Linked DNA regions of Homo sapiens: region 2 is linked to region 1. The links come from fine-mapping of genetic effects on gene expression. A gene starts in region 1. The other region holds a variant in brackets. All regions are shown on one strand. Distances are from middle to middle.

Evidence for each region.
Region 2: its variant is fine-mapped to the expression of IDH3A in whole blood (TOPMed, PIP above 0.99).

What each region holds. Positions count from the first base shown.
Region 1 is chr15:78,142,978-78,158,958 of GRCh38, forward strand. IDH3A (isocitrate dehydrogenase (NAD(+)) 3 catalytic subunit alpha) reads left to right here and starts at 6,385. Exons shown (of 11, transcript NM_005530.3): 1 at 6,385-6,453; 2 at 12,236-12,298; 3 at 14,571-14,654. The coding sequence starts at 6,427. LOC124903534 (a long non-coding RNA gene) reads right to left here and starts at 6,242. Exons shown (of 2, transcript XR_007064725.1): 1 at 6,131-6,242; 2 at 302-4,755. RefSeq lists a silencer at 6,345-6,924.
Region 2 is chr15:78,175,558-78,191,538 of GRCh38, forward strand. It overlaps ACSBG1 (acyl-CoA synthetase bubblegum family member 1), which reads right to left. Exons shown (of 14, transcript NM_015162.5): 6 at 7,148-7,228; 7 at 6,909-7,058; 8 at 6,412-6,588; 9 at 5,198-5,379; 10 at 3,993-4,223; 11 at 3,057-3,274. Among named protein-coding and RNA genes, the nearest start is that of IDH3A, 34 kb to the left of the region's middle. The variant C/T (reference allele first, on the strand shown) is at 8,944.

The sequences.
Region 1 (15,981 bases):
GTGCTGCTAGAAAGTTGAGGTATAGGGACTTTTTAGGAACACAATTTTTATTGACAAGTAACCTTTCAAGAACAATAAAGAAAATCAGAAAGAAAACCTATGTTCATAGCAGCATCATTCATAATAGCGAAAACAACTCAAATGGCCATCAACTGACGAACGTATGAATAAAATGTGGTCTATTCATGTGATGGAATATAACTTGACCGTCATGAGGAATGAAGGACTGATGCATGCTATGATATGGATAAGTCTTGAAAACATCATGCTAAATGAAAGAAGCCAGACACAAGAGACCAGATATTTTATGACTCCGTTTATATGAAATGCCCAGAGTAGGTGAATACATTGGGATGTAAAAGAGATTGGTGGTTGCCAGGGTCTGGGAGAGGGGAGATGGGGAGTGGCTGATGGAACAAGCCATATGGAAAAGCATTCCAGGCATTGGGAGCAGTAAGTGCAAAGGCCCTGCAGTGGGAGGAAGCATGGCCGATTAAAGAACAGCAAGGAGGTAGGTCGGCTTCAAGGGAGACAGTGGTGGGGGAGAAGCTCAGAGAGGGGCTAGCAGGACTAGACCCTTTAGGGCTTTATGGGGCACTGCCAGGGCATTGCCTTTTACTTGGAGAGAGACAGGATGTCGCTGGCAGCTTTGGGCAGAGAAGGATGTATCTGTCTTATGTTTGAACACAATCCCTCTGGCAGGAGATGGATTTTAAGGGGTAGAAGTAGGGAAGCCAGTTTGGGGGCCACTGTGTTGGTTCAGGCAAGAGGTAACTCTGACTTGGACCCTGGTGGCAGCAGCTGCCAAGGGGAAAAGTGTCCAAAACTGAACCTATTTTGAAAACAGCTCATCTTCAGGCTTTTGGCCTCAGCAACTAGAAGGCTGGAGTTGAATTTTATTGGGTGGGGGAATTCTGTGGGAGGGAGCAGGTTTCCTTCTACTCTTTGTTCACATATAAAAAGAAGTTATAAGAGAACATAGATAATAGTTTAAATTTTTATTTTTTTCTGAACATTCAACCATAAACATTTATCAAGATGCTAAAGTCTTCATAATACTCACTTTAAAAATGTTTTTTTTGGCCAGGCGCGGTCGCTCATGCCTGTAATCCCAGCACTTGGGAGGCCGAGGCAGGCGGATCACGAGGTCAGGAGATCAAGACCACCCTGGCTAACATGGTGAAACCCTGTCTCTACTAAAAATACAAAAAATTAGCTGAGCATGGTGGCGGGCGCCTGTAGTTCCAGCTACTTGGGAGGCTGAGGCAGGAGAATGGCATGAACGCAGGAGAATGGCGTGAACCCAGGAGGCGGAGCTTGCAGTGAGCCAAGACAGCGCCACTGCACTCCAGCCTGGGCGACAGAGCCAGACTCCATCTCAAAAAAAAAAATTATTTTTTAATTTTATTTTTAGAGATAAGGTCTTCCTCTGTCATCCAGGCTGGAGTGCAGTGGTGCAATCATGGCTCACTGTAGCCTCTAACTCCTGGGCTCAAGTGAGCCTTCCACCTCAGCCTCCCAAGTGGCTGGGACTACAGGTACATGCCACCATGCCTGGCTAAATTTTTATATTTTGTAGAGACTATGTCTTGCTATGTTGCCCAGGCTGGTCTTCAACTCCTGGCCTCAAGTGATCACCTCGGCCTCCCAAAGTGCTGGGATTGCAGATGTGAACCACCATGCCAGGCCATTGATCACTTTTGAAGGCTGCATGATGGTCCACTTCATTCATTTCCCCTAAATTACATAACCATTTCTTCTGTTAATCATTTAGACTGCTTTTTTCTCTTTTTAGTTTTCAAAATTAAGGATAATTGTATAATGAATATCTTTGTGTTGATGGCTTTTTCTTTCTGGATTTTTTTCCCCAAGAGTTTAATTCTCAGGAATGGATTTACTAGGTGAAAGAGTAAGAACAGTTAATGTCTCTCTTAAGACACATTGCTAAACTGTTTTCCAAAGAGATTGTGGAAATGTATAAGGCCAGCCAAGCAGTGCGCCATAAATTGGATGGTATAAGGCATTGCATTTTATTAATATTTTTAAATAAAAATAATTTTTTTTAGAAATTTGCATGCATTTGACTATTGTTAAGATTGAACATTTATTTAAAAGTTTATTTGGCTGTGAATTGATTATTCAGGTCCTTTTCCCGTTTTGTTTTGTTTTTTTTTTTCCCGAGACGGAGTCTTACTCAGTCACCCAGGCTGGAGTGCAGTGGTGTGATCTCGCCTCACTGCAACTTCCACCTCCCAGGTTCAAGTGATTCTCCTGCCTCAGCCTCCCCAGTAGCTGGGACTACAGGTGTGCACCACCATGCCTCCCTAAGTTTTGTATTTTTAGTAGAGAGGGGGTTTTACTATGTTAACCAGGCTGGTCTTGACCTCCTGACCTTGTGATCTGCCCGCCTCGGCCTCCAAAAGTGCTGGGATTACAGGAATGAGCCACCATGCCCGGCCTATGTTTTTTGTTTTGTTTTGTTTGAGACAGAGTCTTACTCTGTCGCCCAGGCTGGAGTGCAGTGGCACGATCTCGGCTCACTGCAACCTCGGCCTCCCAGGTTCAAGCAGTTCTCTGCCTCAGCCTCCTTTGTAGCTGGGATTACAGGTACCCGCCACCACGCCCAGCTAATTTTTTGTATTTTTAGTAGAGACAGGCTTTCACCATCTTGGCCAGGCTGGTCTTGAACTCCGGACCTCGTGATCCACCCACCTCTGCCTCCCAAAGTGCTGGGATTACAGGCGTGAGCCACCGCGCCCAGTCCCCTTTTCCCATTTATTTACTAAAGTCCTAATACCTTCTTTACCAATTTGTTGGATCTTTTCCTAACTTAGAGATAGGGATGAACCCTTTGCCAATCATATCTTTAATGAAAATAATATTTTAAATAAAGTAGGAAAACTGTTGAAATGAATTTCTTTTGTAACAAAAAATAAACATTTGGTATGTGAATAATGTATATTCTGTTTTGCTGATTTATTCACTTAAAAATTGCTATCTTGATTTTATTATTTATTTATTTGACACAGAGTCTCGCTCTGTCACCCAGGTTGGAGTGCAGTGGTGCGATCTTGGATCACTGCAATCTCCGCCTCCCAGGTTCAAGTGATTCTCCTGCCTCAGCGTCCTGAGTAGCTGGGACTACAGATGCACACCACCACCCCTGGCTAATTTTTGTTACTTTTAGGAGAGATGGGGTTTCACCATATTGGCCAGGCTGGTCTCAAACTCCTGACCTCAGGCGATCCACCCACCTCTGCCTCCCAAAGTGCTGCGATTACAGGAGTGAGCCACCGCACCTGGCCTCTTGATTTTAAAATCTTTTTTTTTTTCCTTAGAGTGAAGCACACCTGGATTGGATAGTGCTTGTTATTACAGATAAGGGTGCACTTTCTAGATTCTTCTCCTGAGTGGCAAAGTTTTCCCACCGTCTTGTCCAAACATACTTTGCTGATGGTATCTCTGGGCACTACACAGTGCAAGGGACAAGGAAAAAGGGCTTTTCCAGAGGAGAGTGACCTGCATCTTGGAGGAACTCTAGAACATGTTCGAGGAATGGTGACTGGGGCTTCTGGAGCCAAGGGCTGACTCAGGGAACAGATCTCAGCTCAAGGTGAGGTCATTTCTGTTTCCTGCATGTCCCTCCAGCTGCTGACATTTTACCTCTTCAAGGACTGATTCAAATGCCATCTCCATTGTGCAATCTTCCTTGATCACCCCCCAACTTCCATCTGAGACTTCTGAGTTTCTCCCTCACTAGATCTGGAGGGTAGGAGTGGGTCTTGTTCATTTTTTGTTCTCACAGTGCACTTGCTAGAGAATGGCTTGGGAAGCCTTTGTAGGATTGGACTGGCCCTCAGCGAAAGTTCAGCAGTTAGGAGAACTGCCTTAGTACTTAGGAAGCTTCCTAGTGTGAATGCCAGCATCATCACTTACTAGCTGTACTTCAGTTTTCTCATAGGGTTGTTGTGAAGATTAAATGAAGACTGGACAAAGTCAGTCAATGTTTATTTCACAATCACTGAGCAGCAAGTATTCCTTGTGTACCAGTCTCTGTTCCAGAAACAACGTCATAAGAGATCATCAAGATTATCTCTGGACTTAAGGCATATCTTCTCTCTATCTCTTTTGAGACAGAGTCTCGCTCTGTCACCCAGACTGGAGTGCAGTGGCATGATCTCGGCTCACTGCAACCTCTGCCTCGTGGGTTCAAGCGATTCTGATGCCTCAGTCTCCTGAGTCACTGGGATTATAGGCATGTGCCAACACGCCCAACTAATTTTTGTATTTTTAGTAGAGACAGGGTTTTGCCATGTTGGCCAGGCTGGTCTCCAACTCCTGACTTCAAGTGATCCACCTGCGTCGGCCACCCAAAGTGTTGGGATTACAGGCGTGAGTCACCACGCCTGGCCCAAAGCTTATCTTCTCAATGGCACACAGCAGAAGAGAATGTGATGTTTCCCAGGAGAGGTGGGAGCCAAGTGCTAGAGGGCTCTGAGTAAGGAGAGGGGGACACATTCGTGGGTCTTGGGGGCTTTTACAACTTTTACTACTTCCCAACATGTAAGCTGAGTCTTGACAAGGAGCTAGAATTTCAGCCAGTAGAAGTGGGGCAAGAGGGCATTGAGGCTGAGGGAATGGCACGACCATAGGCACGGAGAGGTAAAATATGGGAAGCATTTGGGGGCTGGCCAGCAGTCCTAGTTGGCAGGCGCTCCAGGTCTTTGGGGCTGGAAGGAGTGGTGGGAAATCAGGCTGAAAAAAGACAGTGGTGTGAGAGGAGAGTGCAAGGGAGAGCCAGGAGGTTTCAGAGCCGGGGCGAGCCCTGGTCAGAGCTGTGCCTGAAGGGGAGGGCAGGTTGGCAGGTGAAGAGGCTGTTGTAAGAGCCTGGGCCTGAGGTGGTCTGGCCCGAAGGAGGGCAGGGGTGACATTGGGGATGGAGGAACTGTGGGAGAACACTTCAGGATGGGACTGCCAGGGCCTGATGAGGGGAAGGGGCCCAATGGAAAGGGGTTGATAAAAGCCCTCCTTCCTGACAAGGCCACAGACTTAGCTGCAGTTTATTATTTAGGTCATAAAAGCTCTTGGGATCACTTCTCTACTGCACTCATCACCTCTCTGGGTGGGTAGGCAGCTCCTCTCTGGATAGAACTCTTCCCAGGGTAGGGTAGCAGAGACCTGGTTTAAACACCTGACCTCCCCTGGCACCCAGCTAGAGGCCTGGCCATCAGCAGGAACTCAGGAGTTTGTGATGGACAGGGAGAGGACAAGGGGAAAGGTGAGTATGGATGTTATTTCTTCAGAGAAGCATTCCCTGACCTCCAGGTTAGGTTTGAATCAGGTTGCCTGATTTTGCCTTGCCATAGCTCCTTGCTCTTTTGCTTCTTGGCGCAACAGTTTTAATGACATGTGTGTGACACTTGATTGAAGCCTGTCTTTCCTACTGGACACTAAGCCCCAGCACTTAAAACAGTGCCTGGTGTCTAGTTGACCCTCAGAAATATTTGTTGAGCTAAATAGACAGATTAGTAGTTGCCTGGGATTGAGGACAGGAGCGGGATTGACTATAAACGGACACAAGGAACATTTTCATATGCTCAAAAACTGGATTGTGGTGATGGTTGTGCAACTGTTTACATTTACTAAAAATCATCAAACTGTACACTTACAGTGAGTAAATGTTACTATATATACATTATACCTCAATAAAGCTGGTAAAAAATAAAATTCGGCCAGTCGCAGTGGCTCACTTTGTGAGCCTGGGGCAAGCAGATCGCTTGAACTCTGGAGTTCCAGACCAGCCTGAGCAACATAGCGAGGCCCCATCTCTACGGAGAAAAAAAAAAAAAAAAAAAAAGAAAAAGAAAAGAAAAAACAAAGTTGGGCTGGGCTTAGTAATTACTTGATCCCAGGAGGTCGAGGCTTTGTAGTGAACCTGTTCGCGCTACTGCACTCCAGCCTGGGCGACAGAGTGAGACCCGGTCTCAAAAAAAAAAAAAAAATCAAAATTTGTGGAATAAGAAAATTATGTGTCTTTCTCCACGGGATTGTAAATTCTATGAGGAGCGCTATATCCCCAAGATCCTAGAACATTAATCAGCACCTAGTAGGTGTGGAACAAACGTCTTACCTTAACAGCGAGTCAATGAACCAGGGAGGGGAGGAAGAAGCTTTCCCGGAGATGCCGGCCCCTCAGTTTCCGGGTTCGCCTGGCGCTCAGCCAGGCCAGTCACAGAGAGACGAGCCCGGCGATTCGCCAGCGGAATGTCCAGGGGCGGGGCAGCGAGCGAGCGCGAAGCAATCCTGAGGCGGTCTAGGGGGCGGGGCGTTCAGGGGGCGTGGCCGTGCAGGGGCGGGCTCCGAGCGTGGGGTGGGCGCTTGCGCACTGCCGCTGCGGCTGTTGCTGCGGAGCCAGGAGGGGAAGCGATGGCTGGGCCCGCGTGGATCTCTAAGGTGAGCGCTGGCAGGCCGGCGTGTGGCAGGCAGGCAGGCCGCGAGGGCTGGCAGGAGAGCCGGTCGCGTGCCGGGTGTGGGCGGGCGCGTGGGCCAGACAGGGAGGCGGTGGCTGCCCGCGGGGACAGCTTGGGAGCCGGTCCTGGTCGCCCGTGCCCCGCGCTCCGTGGCCGGCTCGCAGTGTATGGGCCGCCCCGGGCCGGGTCAGCAGCGCAGAGGCGGGGACGGCGTCAAGGTCAAGGCGGGGGGGCGCCGGCCCTGCTCCTGCCGAGACCCGGCTGCCGTCACCCGCATCCGCCCAGGCCAGAGCCCAGGCTTCGCGCCGAGCCCGGGAAGGTCACGGGAGCCTCTGTCCCGGCTCCGCCATCCGGGCCGCTTCCCCGGCTGCGGCCCTGCTGCGGGACTGATCCCCTCAGCACTGCCCACACCTCTCATCCGCTGTCTGCGCGGCCCTTGGCCGGGGAACCGCAGGTGCCACGGGCACTGGCGTTGAGCTTGGGAGGTTTTCCCAGGTGAGAGAATCCGGGGGCCCTTTTCCCTATCAGATTGTTTTCCCTTTGGCGCTCTTCCCAGTCAGACCTCTAGTGCTCTTGTAGCTATTTCCCCTTCATAGGATAGGGCATCTTACACCTCGGAATTACCGTCTGAACCTTCGGAGAGAGAGACCAGCAGAGCCTTCCTTTTACCTTTCATTGGTGGGAATCCTGCAATCTGGAGCGCTTTAGCTCTCCTTGACAGCTCAGATGCCAGAGCTGGAAAGGGTTTCAGATCATCTATGCAGTTCCGTAGCTTCTCAGTGGAACTAACCTGTGCCTGAAGAAGAATTTGCTCAAGGTCACACAGGAGGTCGGTGTCAGAGCAGGGAGAGGAACCTAGGTGTCTTGGTTCCCATTTCCCAAGGTCACATAGCAAATGATGGTACAGGCCATCAGGCCTCAAGTCTCCTGTTGCTATGAAAGGGTGGTCCCCTAGAAATCTATAAACAATTTAACGTTTTTCTGTAAGTTTGATACTACTTTTCTCCCATTTTTTCGGTTTAAAGAGAGGTCCAGAGATGCACTGTTATTTAAGGAAAAGATCTCTGTACTGGAATTTAGGAGTCTCAGATTTAAATCCTAGCAATGCCACTGATTGGCTGTGTGACCCTAAGCAAATTACTAAACATCTCTAAGCCTTAATATGCCCATCTGTGAATATCTATACTTACATCACAGAATTGTTTGAGTATTAAATAAAATAATGTATGTGAAAGCACTTGGTATGTACAGAAGGAAAACAAAAATCTGAAGCTTTCTTATCAATATGTTTATCTGTCTCCAACAGACAGTGGTTTTCATGGGCATCATTAACTGGTTTTTTTGTTCAATAACTAGATTCTACTTTGTCACCCTCTTCAGACCCAGATTTGCTTGTGATGATAACTCTTATGTCACATTTGCTCCTAAAAGTAAAGCAACTTCTGTGTCACTGTGAAAACTGAACTCAGTCCTTTAATCTCTGAACTTACATTTAACACCCAATTCATCTTTGGTAGGTACATTTGCCTTCACAGTGAGGCACTAAAGCAACACTTGATAATGATTGTGCTGGTAAATCTGTTTTGCCTTTAGTGTGATCTGCATGAAAAAACCCTCATAGTAGGTATTCAGAAAGTGTTGGGTTGTGGAGTCAGAAGATGAGGTTCTCTGACATGCACTCCCTGTGTGACCTTTGGCAGAGTCATTTGACTTCTGGGCCAGCTTCTCACTTTAGGGATTGGAGCAGAAGGTGGCTCAGAGGCTGACCCCAGGATGGTGGAGGTGCTGAGCTGGATGCCGGTTTCAATCAGGACAGTTCCTCTGTTGAGTTTCCATTTCAGGTTGTGGCCAGGCATGGTGGCTCATGCCTGTAATTCTAGCACTTTGGGAGGCCAAAGTGGGCGGATCACTTGAGGTCGGGAGTTCAAGACCAGCCTGGCCAACATGGCGAAACCCCATCTCTACTAAAAATACAAAAATTTGCTGGGCGTGGTGGCGCACGCCTGTAATCCCAGCTACTCGGGAGGCTGAGGCAGGAGAGTCACTTGAACCCAGGAGGTGGAGGCTGCGGTGAGAGGAGATCATGCTCCTACCTGGGTAACAGCAAGACTCTGTCTCAAAAAAAAAAAAGATTTTTTTTTTAAAACCCATCTCAGAACCCATGTACAACACTATTTACATGTTTTTAAGTTAAAAAGGAAATGAGTTGTGGATTAAGATGGCCCACGACCTGAAGTCCAAAGTTCAGGGTTTTGGTCCAGGCTTCATGAACCTGGCCTCAGTTTCCTCATCTGAAAAGTGCCAATAATGCCTATCTCTACAGGTTTTATATAAATAAAATGATGTGAGATATATATATATATATGCATATGAGTATTCTATAAAGTAGAAGTCCTGCCATCTCAGCCTTCCATGAAGCTGGGACTACTGGTGTGTGCCACCATACCTGGCTAACATTTAAAATTTTTTTTGTAGAGGTAGGGTCTCACTCTGTTGTCTAGGCTGATTGGTCAGGTCTTCTGTCACAGAGACATAAGCTAGTTTTGTGTGAATGTCTTTTCCCTCTTTTTTGGGCTGGGAGAGGAGAAAGGACTCATGTCAATTTTTTTTTTTTTTTTTTTTTTTTTTGAGACAGAGTTTTGCTCCTGTTGCCCAGGCTGGAGTGGAATGGTGAGATCTTGGCTCACTGCAACCTCCACCTCCTGGGTTCAAGCGATTCTCCTGCCTGAGCCTCCCAAGTAGCTGGGATTACAGGCACCCACCATCACACCCAGCTGATTTTTGTATTTTTATTAGAGACAGGGTTTCACCATGTTGGCCAGGCTGGTCTTGAACCCTGACCTCAGGTGATCCACCGGCCTCAGCCTCCCAAAGTGCTGGGATTACAAGCGTGAGGCACTGCGCCCGGCCTTTTTTTTTTTTTTTTTTTTGAGATGGAGTTTTGCTCTTGTCACCCAGGCTAGAGTGCAATGGCGCGATCTTGGCTCACCGCAACCTCTGCCTCCTGGGTTCAAGTGATTCTCCTCCCTCAGCCTCCTGAATAGCTGGGATTACAGGCATGTGCCACCACGCCTGGCTAATTTTGTATTTTTAGTAGAGACAGGGTTTCTCCATGTTAGTCAGGCTGGTCTTGAACTCCTGACCTCAGGTGATTTGCCTGCCTCAGCCTCCCAAAGTGCTGGGATTACAGGCGTGAGCCACCGCATCCGGCCTCATGTCACTTTTATGCTCTGCTTGTCACGAAGTAACCTTTAAATGGTGCTTTGGAAAATTTTATTTTACTTAAAGTTCTGGGTCATTGTGATGACTTAGGTGCAGTACTGCTTTATTCTAAGATCATGCAAGAGAGATGACAAACATGGAAAAGACTGGTCCTTAAAGAAGATCATTGCAAGTATTAAGGCTACTTGTTGGCTTGGAAACTCTTCAGATAGAGATGTGACTGAGGCTGGACTCAGTTTTGTTTGATTGTTGTTTTGTTTTTTTTTAAATTATTGAATACCTTCTATGAGCCAGGGACTGTTCTAGACACTAGATACAACAGTGAACAAAACACAAATCCTTACACTCCTGGGTTTACATTGCTGCCCCCAGCATATGCAGGTAGGATGGGTTTACATTTTAAAATCAGTTGTTTGAGTCGGGTCTTTTTCATTCTTTCTTTCTTTTTTTCTTTTTTTTGTCCATTACCTAGGCTGGAGTGCAGTGGCATAATCATAGCTCACAGAAGCCTCAAGCTCCTGGGCTCAAGCAGTCCTGAGCTCAAGCCGACTTAGCCTCCCATGTAGCTGAGACCATTGGTGTGCACCACCATACCTGGCTAATTTTGTAGAGACAGGGTCTCACTTTGTTGCACAGCCTGGTTGGTTGGGTCTTCTGTCACAAGGACATGAGTTTTGTGTGAATGTCTTTTCCTTCTTTTTTGTTCAGGGAGAGGAGAAAGGACACATGTCAATTTTCTTGTCACAAAGTAGCCTTTAAATGGCCTCCCTTCCAATAGCCCACTCGCTGGTGGATGAATCATGCCCTAGGATTAACATTTTGGCCAATGGTTTTGGCATTCTTTTGGATTTGGCCCAGTCTTATTTTCAATGCAGAGTCATGACTATAGATACCAGAAGATTAGAGAATAAAATTCATTCATACCTTTCTTGGCTGTTGGTTGTTACCAATAAATATTTCAGCAAAGGTTCAGACCCCAGAAAAAAACATCAAGATAGGATATAACAAATGTGTCTTTGCTCATGTATCTAGCAGGAGAAAAAGTTACTTTTTAAAAAATTTAATGCAGCCGGGTGTGGTGGCTCATGCCTGTAATCCCAGCACTTTGGGTGTCCAAGGCAGGTGGATCACCTGAGGTCAGGAGTTTGAGACCAGCCGGGCCAACATGGAGAAACCCTGTCTCTACTAAAAATACAACAAGATTAGCCGGGCATGGTGGTGCATCCCTGTAATCCCAGCTACTTTCAGGAGGCTGAGGCAAACCCAGGAGGTGGTGGTTGCAGTGAGCCGAGATTGCACCATTGCACTCCAGCCTGGGCAACAAGAGTGAAACTCTGTCTCAAAAAAAAAAAAATTTAATGCATTTTAATACCTTTGGTCTATGTACCCAGTTTCTTTTTTTATATTGTTTATAATAATGTAGTATGACTTTGTACCAGTTCTCAAGGACTAAGTTATTAAAGTTTATAATAAACCTTTAAAATTTATATTTCTGGCATATGATGTTAATTGGAGAGAGAAAAAAAAAAAAAAACACGTACCAGTGGTAATATCTTGGTGTGGTGGGATTACTGGGTAACTTTTATTTTATATTTTGTATCTTTTCCTAGTCCCAGCAAACTGACAGTAATGACCACATTACCTATATTATCAGAAGAAGCAGTAATTTATTTAAAATCTTTATTCTGTATGGCATGGGCATCAGATGGTATTAAATAAACTTTCTTAGATTTTACTATAAAGTGTAATTTCTTAATATTCACAGAATAGATATAATGTATAATTGAAGGAGCACTGGACCAGGAGTCAGAAGACCTGTATGTGGGTTTCCATTTTGCCAATTATTCGCTGTGTGACCTTAGGCAAATGCTTTTCTTTGGGACCAGCATCTCCGCTTATGAAATAAGCAAGTTGCCAGGTGTCGTGGTGCACACCTGTAATCCCACCTACTCAGGAGGCTGAGGCAAGAGGGTCACTTGAGCCCAGGAGTTGGAGACTGCAGTGAGTTATGATTGTGCCTTTGAATAGTCACTGCACTCCATCCTGGGCAACCTAGGGAGACCCCATCTCAAAAAGCCTAAAACAACAACAAGAAATAAGTGAGTTGTGCTCTGGATTTCATGAGGAACATCCTGGCTCTAAAATTAATGGTAATTTTCTTAGAATATATGTTACCCCTAAATTGACCGAATGGTCAAGAATGTTGGCACAAAATGATCCACTCATCTGAGAAGAATCTGTATGTTGAGCTGAAAAAGTAGTTTTATTCTACCTTCAACATCTTTTATTTGACAACTTATATTCGTTAAATTGACTTTGAAAATATACAGTACTCAATCTAAAGTAAAAATCTGAGTATTTAGGCTTTCAAATCTGAGATAGCTTGCCACATTGAGCTAATACATGAGATTTGTATTCCTGGGAAGCTACTGAATATATCTGTGCCAAGTTGCAGCATTACCATCCATCAGGACTTCCTCGCTCTTGTTTACTGTATGTGGTTTAATTCTGTGTGTGATATTTCTCTGTTGATATTAATATAGGTCTCTCGGCTGCTGGGGGCATTCCACAACCCAAAACAGGTGACCAGAGGTTTTACTGGTGGTGTGAGTATAATTATGTCTTTTATTTTTTCCTTTTAGAAGTTTCTCAAGAAAGATGCTCTAACATATTTATTATATAGCATTTTATCTCCATTCATTTAGAATTTGGGAAAATTGGCCATATTTATAATGTATGTTGAAATTACTGGCTGACATGCACAAATCTGTTAGGTTACTTGCGCATTTGAAAGAATTATCTTACAGCTGGCTATGTAAGTTTGTCACATTAATATCTTGAGGGAGCCTTGTTAAAAATAGAAAGTACCCTTGAGCCTGTTATTTTATTTCACAATCTCATTTTGGTGAGACAGCTTTTTTCAAAACTAGTACAAGTTGAGAGAAAATTGTTGAGAAGCTTCAAAACCTGCTTTGCATTTTTATTTTATGGGCTTCCCTAAACCCAGTAGATTGAGTGCCAATTAGGAATGCCTCGAACATCTATAAGCCTTGTAGGCTTATACTTGCCTTATATAGGCTTTGTAGACTATCACAGTAGTAGATCATCTATTGTTCATTAAATCTGCTGCTTTTAGAATTCCCAGCATCAGAATTCTGTGCTTTAAAAGCTGATACCACATTTTTGGAACATTCTAAGACTGTGGGTCAGTGACTTCCTATTTGTTTTGATCCCCGCCCCGCCTTTTATGGAATCTGATTTGGATTTCATAATTCCTATACTCCCATATAACATCTATGCCGTGAAAGATTTATAAGACCATAGTACATTTTTTCCTCCATTTACTTTCTGTATTGTGGAAGAAAAGCAGATTTTCTGGTGACTGGATGACATTTATTATTACATGTTGGGAGAACAGGAAGAAGTAGCCAAAGCGTTCTTTTGGCTCTGCTTATGCCAAAAATGCAGGATGGGGCTTGCACTTCAAGCTCAAGGATAGCCATGCTAGCATTTCAAACGCATTCTGAAAGCTAATAAGATGATCATTGCTCTCTGCTATTATTTAATTTTCAGGCTATTTATTTGAAAAAAAAATTAGCTTGATGGAGGAGGTTATTTTTGAAGAAATAAGAGGATGTATTAATTTTTTTAAAGACTTCTTCAACCCGAGAAAACTGGTATGAGCCTTAGCCCTGGCTAAGACTGAGGTGGGAGATTTGCTTAAGGCCAGGAGTTCGAGGCTGCAGTGAGCTGTGATCACACCTGTGAGTAGCCACTGTGCTCCTGCCTGGCAATGTAGTGAGTCCTCATCTCTAAAAAATAAAAATTGAAAATTAGAAAAATGAAAAAAATAAAAATGTTTCTTCAGTTGTACAGAAACTAATCAGAAATAATTAGTCCACGTATCTGGGCAGACATCATTGGAAGGCAAAGGACCAAGGAAACTTGAATTAGTGACTTTTTAAAAATGCAGTTCAAGCAACTAGAACTGAAAAAAAGCCAAGCCCCTAGGTGGGGTAAAGTCCCAAGATAATAAAATATGTGGTTCCCAAATGGAAAAAGAGGTGCTGATCTTCTCCCTTACATATTTTTATTTCTGCATTTGAAATGCTGGCTTCGTTTTGCCTGAAGCCTTAGAATAAATCATTGCTGTTACATTATAAAAACAATAATTGTCATTCTAAGTGTGACTCAGGCTTTGCAGGTATGATGACATATACTATTCTTTTTGGTTGCAGATCAACTTTGCCAAGCTTATGTAGATTACTCTTAGATTTAAGCAGACAGTTTTATAGAGGAACTAAGAAAAAAATGGAAGCTCTCTTGATAAAAAGTCTGATTTTCCCTGAGTACCAAAACAGACCTCAGTAATATTTTGGAAATGTGTCTGAAAATGTTTTGCAAGACTGAAGAAGTTGCATGAGAAGCTTTCCAGGATCACAATGGAAAGGAAAGGAAAACACTTGCCTTCATGAGAAACCGTCTAAATTTTAGTGAGAGAACATTGTTAATTTTTTGTTGTTGTTGTCTTTGGTTTAAAAGATTTGAATTAATTGGTCTCTTTGCAGCTTGTCTGAAAAGAAATATCAATTAGGAAATCTACTTGGTAGTTTAATTTATTTTCGTTTTATGTAAAGAGTATCATTTGGTTCTTTTTAAAACCTCTGAACTCAGGTAAAGAGTAGGATTGCAGAGTCTCTCCTCTGTTGATTCCTGCCTCCCCTTTGATGACCCCCGGGGAGGTATGTTTGTTTTCTTAACAGCATTTGAATCTTCCTGAGACATCTCATAAAGTGGATTTCTCTGTCAAAATATTCTTTTTTAAGCCTTCAAAAACAAAAATTCTTACTGTCTTCTTTGATGATTTCTTATGTTCAGGTTCAGACAGTAACTTTAATTCCAGGAGATGGTATTGGCCCAGAAATTTCAGCTGCAGTTATGAAGATTTTTGATGCTGCCAAAGTAAGTGGGCTTAAAAAATACATTTAATGATGACTCACTGAAAAGTTTTCTTAGCCAGTTGGATTCTGTGAACTTTTAGGATGCATTGTACCCATTTCTATGAAATTTAGTCAGGTCTGTTGTTAATCTCCACCGATTGTCACTTTAACAGTGTGTGTCTCAGTGTTTGCTACTGCCATTATTTCTTTCTTTCTTTTTTTTTTTTTTTTAAATTTAGAGATGAGGTCTCGCTCTATTCCCAGGCTGGTCTTGAACTCTGGGGCTCAAGCGATCCTCCCACCTTCACCTCCCAAAGTGCTTGGATTATAGGCGTGAGCCACCGCACCTGGCTGGCTGCTCCTGTTGTTGATAGTTTAAACTCCTGCATTGGCATCAGTTATATGTAAAGTAATCAAAGTAGTACTGCAGTATTTGTGGATCTTTAAGTCCTGCTTGGGTTTAAGATCTTTTAAGCCCTGCCAAATCACCCACCTTTTTGCAAAAAATAAAATAAAATAAGACTAGAATTGCTGTTTCCAAAATCTATACAGGCGCTTTTGAAATAATCTCTTTAAAATAAAATTTCTGATGTGTTATCAAGAATGGAATGTTATTACTTCTAACAGCTGAGCCTTTGATACAGGTAGATAATTTAAAAATTCTGTAAGTGGATTCAGCTGTAAGCTGCTTGTGAACAGCACCGTGTCTGTCTGAGCTCGTGTCCTAGGACATGTTCAGTGTGCTAGCTGTATACACATGAAGGATGTAGGTAGAGAGAAAGGGATGCTTGTTTATACCTCCAACTGGTACATTCATAGGTTATGCAATACATACATACATATATATATATATATTTTTTTTTTTTTTTTTTTTTTTTTTTTTTGAGACAGAGTTTTGCTCTTGTTGCCCAGGCTGAAGTGCGATGGAGCAATCTCGGCTCACTGCAACCTCTGCCTCCCGGGTTCAAGCGATTCTCCTGTCTCAGCCTCCCAAGTAGCTGGGATTACAGGCACATGCCACCACGCCTGGCTAATTTTTTTATTTTTAGTAGAGACAGGGTTTCATCATATTGGTCAGGCTGGTCTCGAACTCCTGACCTCAGGTGATCTGCCCACCTTGGCCTCTGCACCGGGCCTGGCCTATATATATATTTTAAACAATGTAATATTGTTTTTTAAAAACAGCTTTATGGAGATATCATTCATCCTTTATTTTTTATTTTTATGTTTCATTTGTTTTGAGACATTGTTTCGCTCTTGTTGCACAGGCTGGAGTGCAATGGCATGATCTTGGCTCACTGCAACCTCCGTCTCCCAGGTTCAAGCTATTCTTCTGCCTCAGCTTCCCG
Region 2 (15,981 bases), 33 kb after region 1:
CACAGGCCTTAAGGGAACTGCAGGTAGCAAGTGAGACAGAGGCTGGAGAGGAGCAGGGAAGATCTTAGAGGCCTCCAGTGCTGGCTCAGGAGCTGGATTGTGTGCAGGCAGCTGGGAATTACTGAATGGTGTGAGATCAAAGTTTTAGGGTACTCTGGTAGCTGGGGTGAAGAGTGGTTATTCAGGGACAGGCTGGCTAGAGAGGAATCCATGGCAAGTGTCTATATGATCAGGGTTTGTCTAGGACAGCAGAAGTCAGGTGAAGAGGAGAAGACAGACTCTGGAAATGTGGGAAGACAAAAACCCAGCCTCCCCAAAATATGCCTCATCATTGCTACCTCATTCCTGCCCTTTTCTCCTCACTACGGCCCTCTGCATTCTTACCAGCATCTTTTACCATTAGTAAATGATTAAAAAAAACCCTTAGCAAACTAAGGCTAGAAAGGAACTTCTTTAATCAGATAAGGAACATCTAAAAATTTTTACAGCAAACATACTTTTTTTAAGATTTAATAATTTTTTTTTAAATAAATAGAGACAGGATCTCACTATGTTGCCCAGGCTGGTCTCGAATTCCTGAGCTCAAGCAATCCTCCTGCCTCAGCCTCCCAAAGTACTGGGATTGCAGGTGTAGGCCACTGTGCTCAGCCAAACATACTTAATGATAAGTTAGTGAATGCTTCTCCCCTGAGATCAGGAACAAAACAAGGATGACCACTATCACCACTTCTATTCAACACTGTCCTGGAGGTCCTAACCTGTGCAACATGGGAAGAAAAAAATTCATCTGCTATTTGCAGATGATATAGTTGTGTCCATAGGAAATTCAAAAGAATATACACATTACTGGATTGAATATGTGGTCTGATCAAATGATCCACAAAAGGTCATTTGATACAAAGCCAATATGCAAAAAGCAGTTGTATTTCTATATACCAGCAGCAAACAAATAGGAGAAAAAAAATTTTGCGGCAACATCTGAGCTGAAAAAAAAATTTTAAGTGATATTATTTAAAATACCTTAAAAAATTCTTAGAAGTAAATATAAGGAAAGATGTGCAAAAATCTCTACACTAGAAAACATAGGCTGGATGCAGTGGCTCACACCTATAATCCCAGCACTTTAGGAAGCTGAGGCAGGAGGATGGCTTGAGCTCAGGAGCTCAAGACCAGCCTGGGCAACATGGCAAAACCCTGTCTCTACAAAAATAAAAAATTAGCCAGTTGTGGTGGCTTGCACCTGTGGTCCCAGCTACTTGAGAGGCTGAGGCTGGACCGGAGGATCACTTGAGCCCAGGAGGTAGAAGTTGCAGTGATCCGAGATCACGCCAGTGCACTCCAGCCTGGGCAACAAAGCGAGACCCTGTTTCAAAAATAAATAAATAAATAAATAGGTAAATAAATAAATAGCACATTATTGAGAGAAACTTAAAAAGACCTAAGTAAATGGAGAGATTTATCATATTTGTGAATTGGAAGAGACAATACTATAAACATGTATTTTTCTCACCAAATTGATCTATAGATTCAATGAAATCAAAATCAAAATTCCACCCAGTTTTTGAGGAAACATATAATGATTCTAAAATTCATATGGAAATGAAAATGGCCAAGAATAGCCAAGGTCATCTTGAAGAAGAAGAAGACCAAGGCTGTAGGACTTAGCCGGATATCTATCCCTGTCATAAAGCTATAGAAATTAAGACACTGGGTATTGGTGCACGGATAGGCGAATAGACCAAGGGAACAGAATAGAGTCCACACATAGACCTCTCATAGACAGTCACTTCATAAAGGACAAAGGTATCACTGCAAGGCCATGGGGAAAGGATGCTGTGTCCGTTGGATATGTATTTGGAGAAAAGCTATTTGGACCCTTACCTCTCACTATACTAGTTCTAAAAGGAGGGCCGGCTCTGGTTGAATTTGGTTTTCTGGCTACTATCCTCCCCCATGCAGGGATGTGGGTCCCCTCATCGGCCATTACAAAGAGGCACACTAGGCGGCGCCCATGGCACATCCAAGCAGTCACCTGTTGCTCCCGGGGTCTCACTGGAGGGTACCTCCAGGGCTCATCAGCCTGCACATCCCAGGGCCCAAACGCCACCGCGACCTTTTGTCCCTCCCTGGGGTGGCCGAGCCTCCATGGCCATCAGTTGGGTCCTGGGCATGGTCGCACACTGCCTGCATGATGTCCACAAAGTAGTTTACCCACTCAACTTAGCTTCAGTTTCCCCCATGAAGCCCTGGTGCAGGATTCCCACGTGGATGCTGCGGGCATGACACCAACTTGGGTGAAGCAGGCAGAACATTCTTCCACAGAGGCATCCCCAACTATTTCTGTCTCTGTGGGAAGTTTGTCTTATTTTAAATTTTATATCCAATTTGCATTCTATTCCCCATCATATCCATGTTTGCATATAAAAATACATAATACTTACGCTCCTGAATCTTCTGGAAAGACTTGCCTTGTTTCTCTAGGGGTCTGATTTCCAGCTCTGCCATTTACTAGCTGGGTGACCTTAGGCAAGTTACTTAACCTCTCTGGATGTCCTCATTAGCAAGTTAAGGTTAATAAGTACCTGCCCCATAGGAGAGTGGAGTAAATAAAACGATGTCACTAAAGGTGCCATCTTAATAAAGGCTCAAGACCAGCAGCTGGTGTAAACAGTGCTGGCAGTGGAATTCCTGCTCCCACCCCACTGCAGCTGTCCAGGGCGCTTGCCTTTTTTTGTTTGTTTGTTTTGGTTTTGTTTTTGGAGACAGAGTCTAGCTCTGTCTCCCAGGCTGGTGTGCAAAGAGGCAATCTCAGCTCACTGCAACCTCTGCCTCCCGGGTTCAAGTAATTCTCGTGCCTCAGCCTCCCGAATAGCTGGGATTACAGGTGCATGCCACCACGCCCAGCTAATTTTTCGTGTGTTTTTAGTAGAGATGGGGTTTCGCTGTGCTGCCCAGGGTGGTCTTGAACTCCTGAGCTCAGACAATCTGCCCGCCTTGGCCTCCCAAAGTGCTGGGATTACAGGCATGAGCCACCGTGCCTGGCCTGGGGTGCTCACCTTTGAGGCGCCCAGTGATGTAGAGGAAGCCATCGGCGTCCAGGCGGCCAGCATCACCCGTGTGCAGCCAGCCTTCCTCGTCGATGGCCTCACAAGTCTTGTCCTCCATGTTCAGGTAGCCCATGAATATGGTGCGGCCCCACAGGCAGATCTCGCCAATGCCCTCTGCGTCCTGGTTCACCAGCTTCACCCGACAGCCGGGCACCAACTTGCCTGAGCTGGCGAGGGAGGGGCCGGGAGACTGGTCAGAGGGAGCCGTCTCCTCCAAGCCCCCACTGGGGAGCCGGGGTCCCAACTGCTCGGTCTTCACTGATTGCTAGAAGGTATCCCCTCACAGGGCTTTTGTATTTTTACAGGGGACTTACAGCTGAAAGGTAGAGCCAAGTAAAGGGTTTTAGGGAATGAAGGAAGGAAGGAACAAATGAAATGGTAATGGTAGAACTTGGAGCACTGTGATAGGCTGGCAGGGAGAGGAGATATTTAATCATAATAGATGATCCTGCAAATCACTCCCCAGAACTGACCGCCCTCACCGTCCATTAGGAGGCTGGCCTGGTCCCCCCAACTCCTACCCCAGCTGGCCCCTGGGCCATCTGCTCTCCTAGAACACACTGGAGCACACCCCACTCCAAAAGAGGGAGGGGCCAGAGGAAAACTGCTCCATAGGTTCAGGGGGCACCTGGGCTATGCAGGCTGTTTTCAACCACAGACTCACGACACGGTGGCAGAGGCCACTCCTACTAGACTGAGGATAAGCTAGGGACTTGGCCCAAGATGGCATTGTTGGCTCTCAGGGGCTCCATAGCCCAGTGGCCAGGTCTCTGGGACCCAACTGGCATGCAAAGAGAAGGGGATCCCCAGGGCACTCAGCAGGCGGGCACAAAGTACCAGCAAGGGCGCATGGGTGTGCATGTGTGTGGCAGCCTCGAGCCTCACCTGTACAGCCGGTAGTTGTAGGGACTGGACATGAAGTGGGGGCCTGAGGTCTCACTGAGGCCGTAGCCCGCATACAAGCGGATGTTGAGACCCAGGAAGAAGTGCTGTGTCTCTGCCATCATGGGGGCCGCTCCATAGAAGTTCTTTTGACACTTGGCAAATCCCAGTGCCTGGCGAACCTTGGCTAGCACCAGGTAATCTGCCAGTCTGGTTGTGAAGGGCTTCAGGTCGCTGGTGGGAGAGGGAGAATGGTTCACAGAAGAAATCACACACACACACACACACACACACACATACACACATTAAAAGGGTGGTATGGTGGTATTCAGTGAGAACACCCTGGCTCGGCCATTCCAGTTGTCTGTTCCAGTTGGTTGGTTTGAATATTGAACCTGCCCGTGAACATGCATGCAGATGTAGGTATGCAGGCACATGGTTGTGTGCAAATATGTCTTGACCCAGGAAGTCAAACAGATTCAGCTGTGTACAGGTGTACGGGCAACAACACAGACACATGCCATTTTGCACACACAATACACATGCACAGAAACTTGAAGTATGTATTCATGTATACACATGTACAAACGTGGGACCCCAGTGAAGCCCACAAATGCTTTGTTCGTGCATGTTCATGTTTCGTGTCTGTGCAAATGAAGCTGTGGATGCACAGATATGTGCACACATCTCATGAAACATACCATTTCACAGGCACATGGGGAATGGAAACTACTTCTAAATTGAAACCAAGCCAGCTTTACGTCACTGACCCTCCATAGAACTATGTGGGAATTTTGAAAGCTATAGAAAGATAGAAAGGGCAAAATATCTGAGGGGTCACTTGGGATGCTGAAAAGGCCGGAAAGGCTAAGTCCTGATCACTGTGGCCCCTTCTCCAGCCACTTACTGAGGTCAGGAGACCTCAGGAGATTGTGCCAGAAGCTGCTCCTAGGGAGGTGAATTTCACTTCAGAGAAAGCAAGTTACTCCTCCCAGTCAGAATCCAAAGGTGGAGCGACTGTCCCCAGCAGGCCCTGGGAAACGCACAGGAGCTCAAGCCCAGTCATTGATGGGGCCTCTGCACGGGGTCTCCAGAGCTGCCCGGCCACTGGAACCGGGACAGGCATGGCGTATCAGACCCTCACTGTGTTTTGGGTTATGACCCAGCCCACTCTCTCCCCAGGCCTCCCGCCCGTGGGCCCTCTGTACCTGCCGGGGCAGGTGAGGTTCTGCTCCAAGGTCACCGACATGGCCCACAGCAGCATCTTTCGCCGGATGAAGCCAGACTGAGCCGCCACCTCCTGGATGCGCTCCATGATCTTCTCCCATACCCGGGGCACCCCCATGTGTGATGTGGGCTCCACCTCCCGCAGCGTGTTCACCAGGCTCCCCTGTTCACACCAGAAGAGGCAGGCCTGTTGGGTCAGGGGCATCTGGGGCCCAGGGGTCCCCTCTTACCAGCCAGGCATGCCGGTGGCACACACATGCTCCAACGGGCACCCACACACACCTGCACGCAAGGGTGGCACATACTGTTTCCTCAATGGCTGTCGCCTTGCTTTTTGCTCACAGAACCCTGGTGGCAGGCAGCAGTCAGGCAGCCAGTGCTGACCTCAGTCTCATCCCAGCCCTGAGCATGGCAACTCTCCATGAGTCTAACTTAGACACAAGAATCCCATTCCCCTCGGCAGCATATGGTTTGAGAACAGACAGGTGACACTTTGGGACACTGAGATGCTGGTGGAGGGAAACTTGCTGGGGGGTTTCTGGGAAAGTTTTCCTCACAGTTAAAATAAGGGTCCAAAGAACAGGTATATCCTGTGAAGCTGGGATTCAGGGAAGGGCTGTAGCCTTCTGGTGATACTCTGAGGATGCCCGTCCTTGATCGTGTCACAAGTCCCGCGAACCACTCTGACTCGACCTTATGTAATGGCATCAGGTTTCTTTTTTTTTTTTTTTTTTTTTTTTGAGACTGGGCCATGCTGTTGCCCAGGCTGGAGTACAGTGGCGTGATCTCGGCTCACTGCAAGCTCCACCTCCTGGGTTCACGCCATTCTCCTGCCTCAGCCTCCCTAGTAGCTGGGACTACAGGCACCTGCCACCACTCCCATCTAATTTTTTGTATTTTCAGTAGAGATGGGGTTTCACCGTGTTAGCCAGGATGGTCTTGATCTCCTGACCTCGTGATGTGCCTGCCTCGGCCTCCCAAAGTGCTGGGATTACAGGCGTGAGCCACCGTGCCCGGCCTAGTTTCCCTTCTTGTTTGGTCATTCGAGTCAGGCTGTGCCCACTGCAGCTGACAGAATTCTGACTGATACATGCACAGGAACAGCACACACACAAATGCACTCAGGGCCCACAGACACATGTGGACGTGGCCTGGCACACGGGCTCAGACGGACACACGGTAAAGGCAGACTGACCTTCAGGGCGTCGGGTTCGGCAAAGCAAACCTGGGCCCCCCACTGGATGCCTGTCCACAGGTCGTAGATCTGGGCGGCAATATGGCTGAGGGGCAGGTAGCTGACTACCACCTCCTGCTGGACTTCTGCCGGCCGGATGTCACCGGCCTGGCTGCCGTACCGTGCCGTCCACGTGATCTGGAGGACAAGTAGATGGATCCCAGCAGTGTCCACAAGCCAGCCCTGGCGGTGCTCACAACTGTGGCCACCCTGGGGGCCAGCCCCAGTGTGGTGCCCCCTGTGGCGATTCTGCAGGCTCTGAAAACCCCAGGACAGGCCTCCCCTCCCCCTTGCTGAGCTCAGTCTGGGCCACAGATTGATGGGCTGTTCTACCTATCCCAGCTCCTAGAGCAGAGGGGCCCAAGGAGCTTTCCCAGGGGCTACTGGGGCAGAGCCATGGCCCAGATCCACCCATAACCCCCTTGCACCCCCCCCACCCCACCGGGCATCTGTCCTACATTGTCTTGACTCAGCATCACGCCCTTGGGGTTCCCAGTGGTGCCGGAAGTGTAGACTAGCACACAGCACTGGTTGGGCTGCTGGGTGTCAATGATGGCGTCCAGGGCTTCCTCAGGCACTTCATTCCCCAGCTCCATGAATTCCTCCATCTGTAGCCAGATGCAGGGAGCAGGCAGGCTAGGTCAGCTGGGTGGGCCCAATAGGCCCCACCTGGCGCCCAGGGCCCCACTGCCCATACCGTGTACACATTGGCCATCTTGTTTGGAGGAGGTTCTTTATATATCACGACTGCCTTTAGATGTGGCAACTGTTTCCAGATCTGCATTGACAGGAAAAATAGATCAGGTTTCAGTAAGAGAAATGTCACCTTCTAAAAAGTACCCCATCTCCCTGTGTGAGTCGGCTTAGTAAAGGTCTCTGGGTGCCCCGTCTCTGACCTTCGACCCCAGCAGGACAACTGCCACCCTTCACCCATAGTTTCCCTCCTGAGAACTTGGGAGCAGTAAAGGTGGGGATAGCCAGGGGACTGGGGATGACTCCCCATTGAAGGAAAACCACCAAACAAGCTGGGGCTTGGTTGAACAAACCATGATCCAGCCACACAATGGAGTAGTGCTATGTGACTGTAGGAGAAAGAGGGAGAGGAGCAGAGGGCAGAGGAGAGAGGGAGAGAATTCTATGTGCAGAGAGTGAGTGGTTTCTAGGATATATTATTAAGTGAAAAAAGGAAGTTTACAATATGCGCATAGTATGCTATATTTGTGTAAGAAAGGGGTGCAATGTAAATATATGTATGCAAACAAGTATTTACTTATGTTTACAAAAAGAGGCCGGGTGTGGTGGCTCACGCCTGTAATCCCAGCACTTTGGGAGGCCAAGGTGGGAGGGTCATTTGAGGTCAGGAGTTCGAGACCAGCCTGGTCAACATGGTGAAACCCTGTTTCTACTAAAAATACAAAAATTAGCCGGGTGTGGTGGTGCATGCCTGTAATCCCAGCTACTCGGGAGACTGAGGCACGAGACTCGCTTGAGCCCGGGAGGCAGAGGTTGCAGTGAGCCGAGATTGCTCCTCGGCACTCCAGAGAGAGACTCTGTCTCAAAACAAACAAACAAAAAGAAACTCGAAGGTTAAACCAAAACCTGATTGAATTCACTGTGTATAGGAAGAGCGGGAATAAAGGGAAGAAGAAAGGGATGGAAGCAAAAATTCTTTGAGTGTTATCTCACATGATTTTGACTTTGGAATCATGTAAATGTCTTAACCATTTGAAAAATAAAGTTATATGTAAAAGGAAGTCAGGTGTGGTGGCTCATGCCTGTGATCCCAGCTACTTGGGAGGCTGAGGCAGAAGGATTGCTTGAGGCCAGGAGTTTGAGACCAGCCTGGGCAATATAGTGAGGCCGTATCTTTGGGGCGGGGCGGGTGGGGCGGGGAACACTACAAAATTTTTAGAAAGGGAAAAAATGAGTTCCTAAAACTTGAAAACACTCTGAAAGAAATAAGTTAGCCCAAGATCAAGGAACCAGAAGAAAAAAAAAGAAAGAAATGAATTAGACTACATACTAAGTTAGTAACATAACCACACACACACAGAATTACATCAAGATCAAGGAATTTTATAATAGTACACTTTGATTCCTCTTTTTCAGTGGCACTCTAAAGGCAAAAAGGAATTTCAAATTCTATGCAATAGTCTTATTGGTTTCTGGGGTTTTGTTTTGTTGGTTTTGTTTGTTTTGTTTTGGAGACAGGTTCTTGCTCTATGGTATGATCATGGCCCACTGCAGCCTCAAACCCCTGGGCTCCCATGATCCTGCCTCAGCCTCCCGAGTAGCTGGGACTACATGTTCACACCACCACATGTCGCTAATTAAATTTTTCCTTTTTTTTTTTGTAGAGACAGGGGGGTCTCACTATGTTGCCCAGGCTGATCTTGAACTCCTGGGCTCAAGAGATCCTTCTGCCTTGGCCTCCCAAAGTGCTGGGATTATACGAATGAGCTGCTGCACCTGGCCTTATTGTTGGTAATAATA[C/T]TGATAATACTATTTCAAAATTATTTGATATATACTGTAGGATTATGTTAATCCTATAAGGAACTAAGATTTTAAGGTAAAATAAAAGAAATACAAGAATAAATAAAGTAAGCTAAAACCTCACAATATAACATTTGAAAAGTTATAGAAATAACAGAAATATCAGTGTGAACTCCTGATTTTTTGCTAAAATATATATTCCTGAGACTTCTGATTCTGATCACAAGGGAGTAACATCCATCGTTGCACTGTAAATACTAGGAAACTGGACAAATAGAATAGCTGGGTGGGCCCAGCAGGCCCCAGCTGGCGCCCAGGGCCCCAGTGCCCATACGGTGTACACATTGGCCATCTTGTTTGGAGAGAAAGCAATTGTTTTCAGATACTGGACTACAGACAGCTCAGGACTGATATCCCTGAGAGAGGGAAACAGATGGGGTGAGCCTCTAAGTGTGCCCCAGCTTTCTGCCCAGGGGCAATTTTTGAGCTATGGGAGAGACAGACAGAGGGAGAGAGAGGGAGAGAGAGGGAGAGAAAGGGGCGGAGGGGAGGGAGAGAGAGAGAGAGAGAGAGAGAGAGAGGAATACAGAACCCAGTTGTCTTACTGAGTTGAGGTGACCAAGATCAGAACTCAGGAAAGCTGAGGCGGCTAGAATTTGTGAGATAGAATACCAGCAGACAGGAGAGAACTATATAGAGAAAGAGTTCTAGAAATTCTTTTAGGGTCTTTGATTGACTCCCCATCTGCTCATGCATAGGGTGAAACTCCATGAAGCTGGAGGAAGACCAATGACCAGGGCTGGAAGTCAAACAGCAGCTGATGTAGGAATTGCTCATGTTTCCCCCCACCAGCATGGAGGGACCCCATCAGGCATTAAGCAGAGCCCAGAAGGGTCATGTCTTAGTGATGAGGCTAAATTAGCCTTAGAGTAAAGACTACCTAAAGGCCTGGCCTAAAAAGCCTTAAACATAGCCTCAAAATAAAGTTCAGAAAGAAAAAAAAATGGAAAAAAATTACTTGTGGGACAATATCAAAAAATCAAATATACATGTAATTGGAGTCCCAGAAAATTTTTTTAATTGAAAAACAGTCTGAGAAATTTTCAAATATAAATTGGTGGATTAAAACTATAAATCTACCAATTTCAGAAGGTGAATGACTCCTAAGCAGAATAAACACAAAGAAAACCACCTTAGGATACAACATAACCAAATTGCTGAAAATCAGCAAAAAAGGAAAAAAATCTTAAAAGCAGCCAGAAAAACAAAACACTATGTGGAGAGGAACGAAAATAAGATATCGTAGACGTCTTGTTAGAAATGATGCAAATAGAAAACATTGAAATGAAATATTTAAAGTGCTGAAAGAAAAAAAAACCCACCCTGTGAACCCATAAATCTAAATCAGATAAAATGACTTTTAAAAAATGAACAGAAAAACAAGCACCTTTTCAGACAAAGACAAGCTGAAAGAATGTATTGCCATCAGACCTGTATTATAAGAAATGTTAAAGAAAAGTTCTTAGTCTCTTTGTAGGTCACTCAGGACTTGCTTTATGAATCTGGGTGCTCCTGTATTGGGTGCATATATGTTTAGGATAGTTAGCTCTTCTTGTTGAATTGACCCCTTTACCATTATGTAATGGCCTTCTTTGTCTCTTTTGATCTTTGTTGGTTTAAAGTCTGTTTTATCAGAGACTAGGCTTAGACTCCCACACAATAATAATGGGAGACTTTAACACCCCATTGTCAACATTAGATCAACGAGACAGAAAGTTAACAAGGATACCCAGGAATTGAACTCAGCTCTGCACCAAGCGGACCTAATAGACATCTACAGAACTCTCCACCCCAAATCAACAGAATATACATTTTTTTCAGCACCACACCACACCTATTCCAAAACTGACCACGTAGTTGGAAGTAAAGCTCTCCTCAGCAAATGTAAAAGATCAGAAATTATAGAAACTGTCTCTCAGACCACAGTGCAATCAAACTAGAACTCAGAATTAAGAAACTCACTCAAAACTGCTCAACTACATGGAAACTGAACAACCTGCTCCTGAATGACTACTGGGTACATAACGAAACAAAGGCAGAAATAAAGATGTTCTTTGAAACCAACGAGAACAAAGACACAACATACCAGAATCTCTGGGACACATTCAAAGCAGTGTGTAGAGGGAAATTTATAGCACTAAATGCCCACAAGAGAAAGCAGGAAAGATCCAGAATTGACACCCTAACATCACAATTAAAAGAACTAGAAAAGCAAGAGCAAACACATTCAAAAGCTAGCAGAAGGCAAGAAATAACTAAAATCAAAGCAGAACTGAATGAAATAGAGACACAAAAAACCCTTCAAAAAATTAATGAATCCAGGAGCTGGTTTTTTGAAAGGATCAACAAAATTGATAGACCGCTAGCAAGACTAATAAAGAAGAAAAGAGAGAAGAATCAAATAGACACAATAAAAAATGATAAAGGGGATATCACCACCAATCCCACAGAAATACAAACTACCATCAGAGAATACTACAAACACCTCTACTCAAATAAACTAGAAAATCTACAAGAAATGGATACTTTCCTTGACACATACACCCTCCCAAGACTAAACCAGGAAGAAGTTGACTCTCTGAATAGACCAATAACAGGCTCTGAAATTGTGGCAATAATCAATAGCTTACCAACCAAAAAGAGTCCAGGACCAGATGGATTCACAGCCGAATTCTATCAGAGGTACAAGGAGGAGCTGATACCATTCCTTCTGAAACTATTCCAATCAACAGAAAAAGAGGGAATCCTCCCTAACTCATTTTATGAGGCCAGCATCATCCTGATACCAAAGCCTGGCAGAGACACAACCAAAAAAGAGAATTTTAGACCAATATCCTTGATGAACATTGATGCAAAAATCCTCAATAAAATACTGGCAAACCAAATCCAGCAGCACATCAAAAAGCTTATCCACCATGATCAAGTGGGCTTCATCCCTGGAATGCAAGGCTGGTTCAATATATGCAAATCAATAAATGTAATCCAGCATATAAACAGAACCAAAGACAAAAACCACATGATTATCTCAATAGATGCAGAAAAGGCCTTTGACAAAATTCAACAACCCTTCATGATAAAAACTCTCAATAAATTAGGTATTGATGGGATGTATCTCAAAATAATAAGAGCTATCTATGACAAACCCACAGCCAATATCATGCTGAATGGGCAAAAACTGGAAGCATTCCCTTTGAAAACTGGCACAAGACAGGGATGCCCTCTCTCACCACTCCTATTCAACATTGTGTTGGAAGTTCTGGCCAGGGCAATTAGGCAGGAGAAGGAAATAAAGGGTATTCAATTAGGGAAAGAGGAAGTCAAATTGTCCCTGTTTGCAGATGACATGATTGTATATCTAGAAAACCCCATTGTCTCAGCCCAAAATCTCCTTAAGCTGATAAGCAACTTCAGCAAAGTCTCAGGATACAAAATCAATGTACAAAAATCACAAGCATTCTTATACCCCAATAACAGACAAACAGAGAGTCAAATCATGCGTGAACTCCCATTCACAATTGCTTCAAAGAGAATAAAATACCTAGGAATTCAACTTACAAGGGACGTGAAGGACCTCTTCAAGGAGAAGTACAAACCACTGCTCAAGGAAATAAAAGAGGATACAAACAAATGGAAGAACATTCCATGCTCATGGGTAGGAAGAATCAATATCATGAAAATGGCCATACTGCCCAAGGTAATTTACAGATTCAATGCCATCCCATCAAGCTACCAATGACTTTCTTCACAGAATTGGAAAAAACTACTTTAAAGTTCATATGGAACCAAAAAAGAGCCTGCATCGCCAAGTCAATCCTAAGCCAAAAGAACAAAGCTGGAGGCATCACACTACCTGACTTCAAACTACACTACAAGGCTACAGTAACCAAAACAGCATGGTACTGGTACCAAAACAGAGATATAGATCAATGGAACAGAACAGAGCCCTCAGAAATAACACCGCATATCTACAACTATCTGATCTTTGACAAACCTGAGAAAAACAAGCAATGGGGAAAGGATTCCCTATTTAATAAATGGTGCTGGGAAAACTGGCTAGCCATATGTAGAAAGCTGAAACTGGATCCCTTCCTTACACCTTATACAAAAATTAATTCAAGATGGATTAAAGACTTAAACGTTAGACCTAAAACCATAAAAACCCTAGAAGAAAACCTAGGCATTACCATTCAGGACATAGGCATGGGCAAGGACTTCATGTCTAAAACACCAAAAGCAATGGCAACAAAAGCCAAAATTGACAAATGGGATCTAATTAAAGAGCTTCTGCACAGCAAAAGAAACTACCATCAGAGTGAACAGGCAACCTACAAAATGGGAGAAAATTTTCGCAACCTACTCATCTGACAAAGGGCTAATATCCAGAATCTACAATGAACTCAAACAAATTTACAAGAAAAAAACAAACAACCCCATCAAAAAGTGGGCGAAGGACATGAACAGACACTTCTCAAAAGAAGACATCTATGCAGCCAAAAAACACATGAAAAAATGCTCACCATCACTGGCCATCAGAGAAATGCAAATCAAAACCACAATGAGATACCATCTCACACCAGTTAGAATGGCAATCATTAAAAAGTCAGGAAACAGCAGGTGCTGGAGAGGACGTGGAGAAATAGGAACACTTTTACACTGTTGGTGGGACTGTAAACTAGTTCAACCCTTGTGGAAGTCAGTGTGCCGATTCCTCAGGGATCTAGAACTAGAAATACCATTTGACCCAGCCATCCCATTACTGGGTATATACCCAAAGGACTATAAATCATACTGCTATAAAGACACATGCACACGTATGTTTATTGCGGCACTATTCACAATAGCAAAGACTTGGAACCAACCCAAATGTCCAACAATGATAGACTGGATTAAGAAAATGTGGCACATATACACCATGGAATACTATGCAGCCATAAAAAATGATGAGTTCATGTCCTTTGTAGGGACATGGGTGAAATGGGAAATCATCATTCTCAGTAAACTATCGCAAGAACAAAAAAACCAAACACCACATACTCTCACTCATAGGTGGGAACTGAACAATGGGAACACATGGACACAGGAAGGGGAACATCACACTCTGGGGACTGTTGTGGGGTGGGGTGAGGGGGGAGGGATAGCTTTAGGAGATAGACCTAATGCTAAATGACGAGTTAATGGGTGCAGCACACCAGCATGGCACATGTATACATATGTAACTAACCTGCACATTGTGCACATGTACCCTAAAACTTAAAGTATAATAATAATAAAATAAAATAAATAAAAATAAATTTAAAAAAGTAATTGGCAATAATAAGTTTTGGTCTGTACATTTCATACATAAATGTGGGATGTTGAATATAAAAGAACAAACAGAATAGTTGTAATAAAATACTAATACAAATCTTTAAAAAAAAAGAAAAGTTCTTAAGGCTGAAAAGATGATATCAGATAAAAACTTGGATCTACATAAAGGAAGACAGAGTATCAGAAATGGCAAAAATGTGGGTAAATATGAAACATATTATTTCCTTCTTTAAAATTTTCTCTGAAAGATACTCAGCTGGACTGGGTGCAGTGGCTCACGCCTGTAATCTTAGTACTTTGGGAAGCCGAGGTGGGCAAATTGCTTGAGCCCAGGAATTTGAGATGAGCCTGGGCAACATAGCAAGACTCTTGTCTCTACAAAAAATACAAAAATTCAGCTGTTGTCATCCATTTTACTTCTATAGAGGTTATAAACCCCACAAACATTGTTATTACTCTTGATTTCAACAGTTGAGTATCTTTCCTTCTTTCTTTTTGTTTTTTTAAGACAGGGTCTAACTCTGTCACCCAGGCCAGAGTGTAGTGTTGCAATCATGGCTCACTGCAGCCTCACATGCCTGTAGTCCCAGCTACTTGGGAGGCTGAGGTGGGAGGATTGCTTGAGCCCAGGAGGTTGAGGCTGCAGTGAGCCATGATTGCACCACTGCACTCCAGTCTGGGTGACAAAGTGAGACCCTGTCTTAAAAAAAAAAAAGAAAAAAGAAAGAAAGATACTCAACTGTTGAAAGCAAGAGTAATAACAATGTTTGTGGGGTTTATAACCTCTATAGAAGTAAAATGGATGACGACAGCTGAAAGGATGGGAGGGGAAGTGGAAGTATACTGTTGTATGGTTCCACATTTCATGGGAACTGGTATCTTGGAGAGTACACTGTGATAAGTTAAAGATGCATATTGTAAAATCAGAGCAAACACTGATATAGTAACAAAGGATAGCTAATAAGCCACTGAAGATCAAATGGAAGACCAAAAGAAAACAAGATAAAAAAGACAAAAAAGTCAGGAAAGAGGAGAAAAGGAACAAAGAATAGATGGGACAAATAAAAAAATAGCCAAATGGTGGCTATTTATACAAATTTCATCAGATTGGATAAAAGGGCAAGACTCAACTATGTGCTGTCTACAAGAAACTCACTTTAAATATAAAGACACAGCTAGGTTAAAATTAAAAGAACACAAAAATACATAATGCAAACATTAATTATCAGAAACCTGGAGTGGCTATATTAATTTGAGGCAAAATACTTTTGGAACAAGAATTATTACCAGGGATAAGGAGGAACATTTCTTAATGATCAAGGGTTAATTTATCAAGAAAACATAATAATCTAAACACGTATATGCCTAATAACAGAGCTCCAAAATACATAAAGCAAAACCTAATAGAACCGGAAGGAAAAATAGATGTCTACCATAATAATTGGAGATTTCCACATTCCCTTTCTTAGTATTTGATAGAGCAAGAAGACAGAAAATCAATAGAGATACAGAAGACAACATTAAAATACTACCAACCAACTTGATTTAATTAACATTTATAGAACCTTCTAGCCAACAACTGCAGAGTACACATTCTTTCAAATATGCATGGAACATTCACCAAAATTGATCATTATTCTATCACACCTACTCTGTACAAACAGAGTGTCT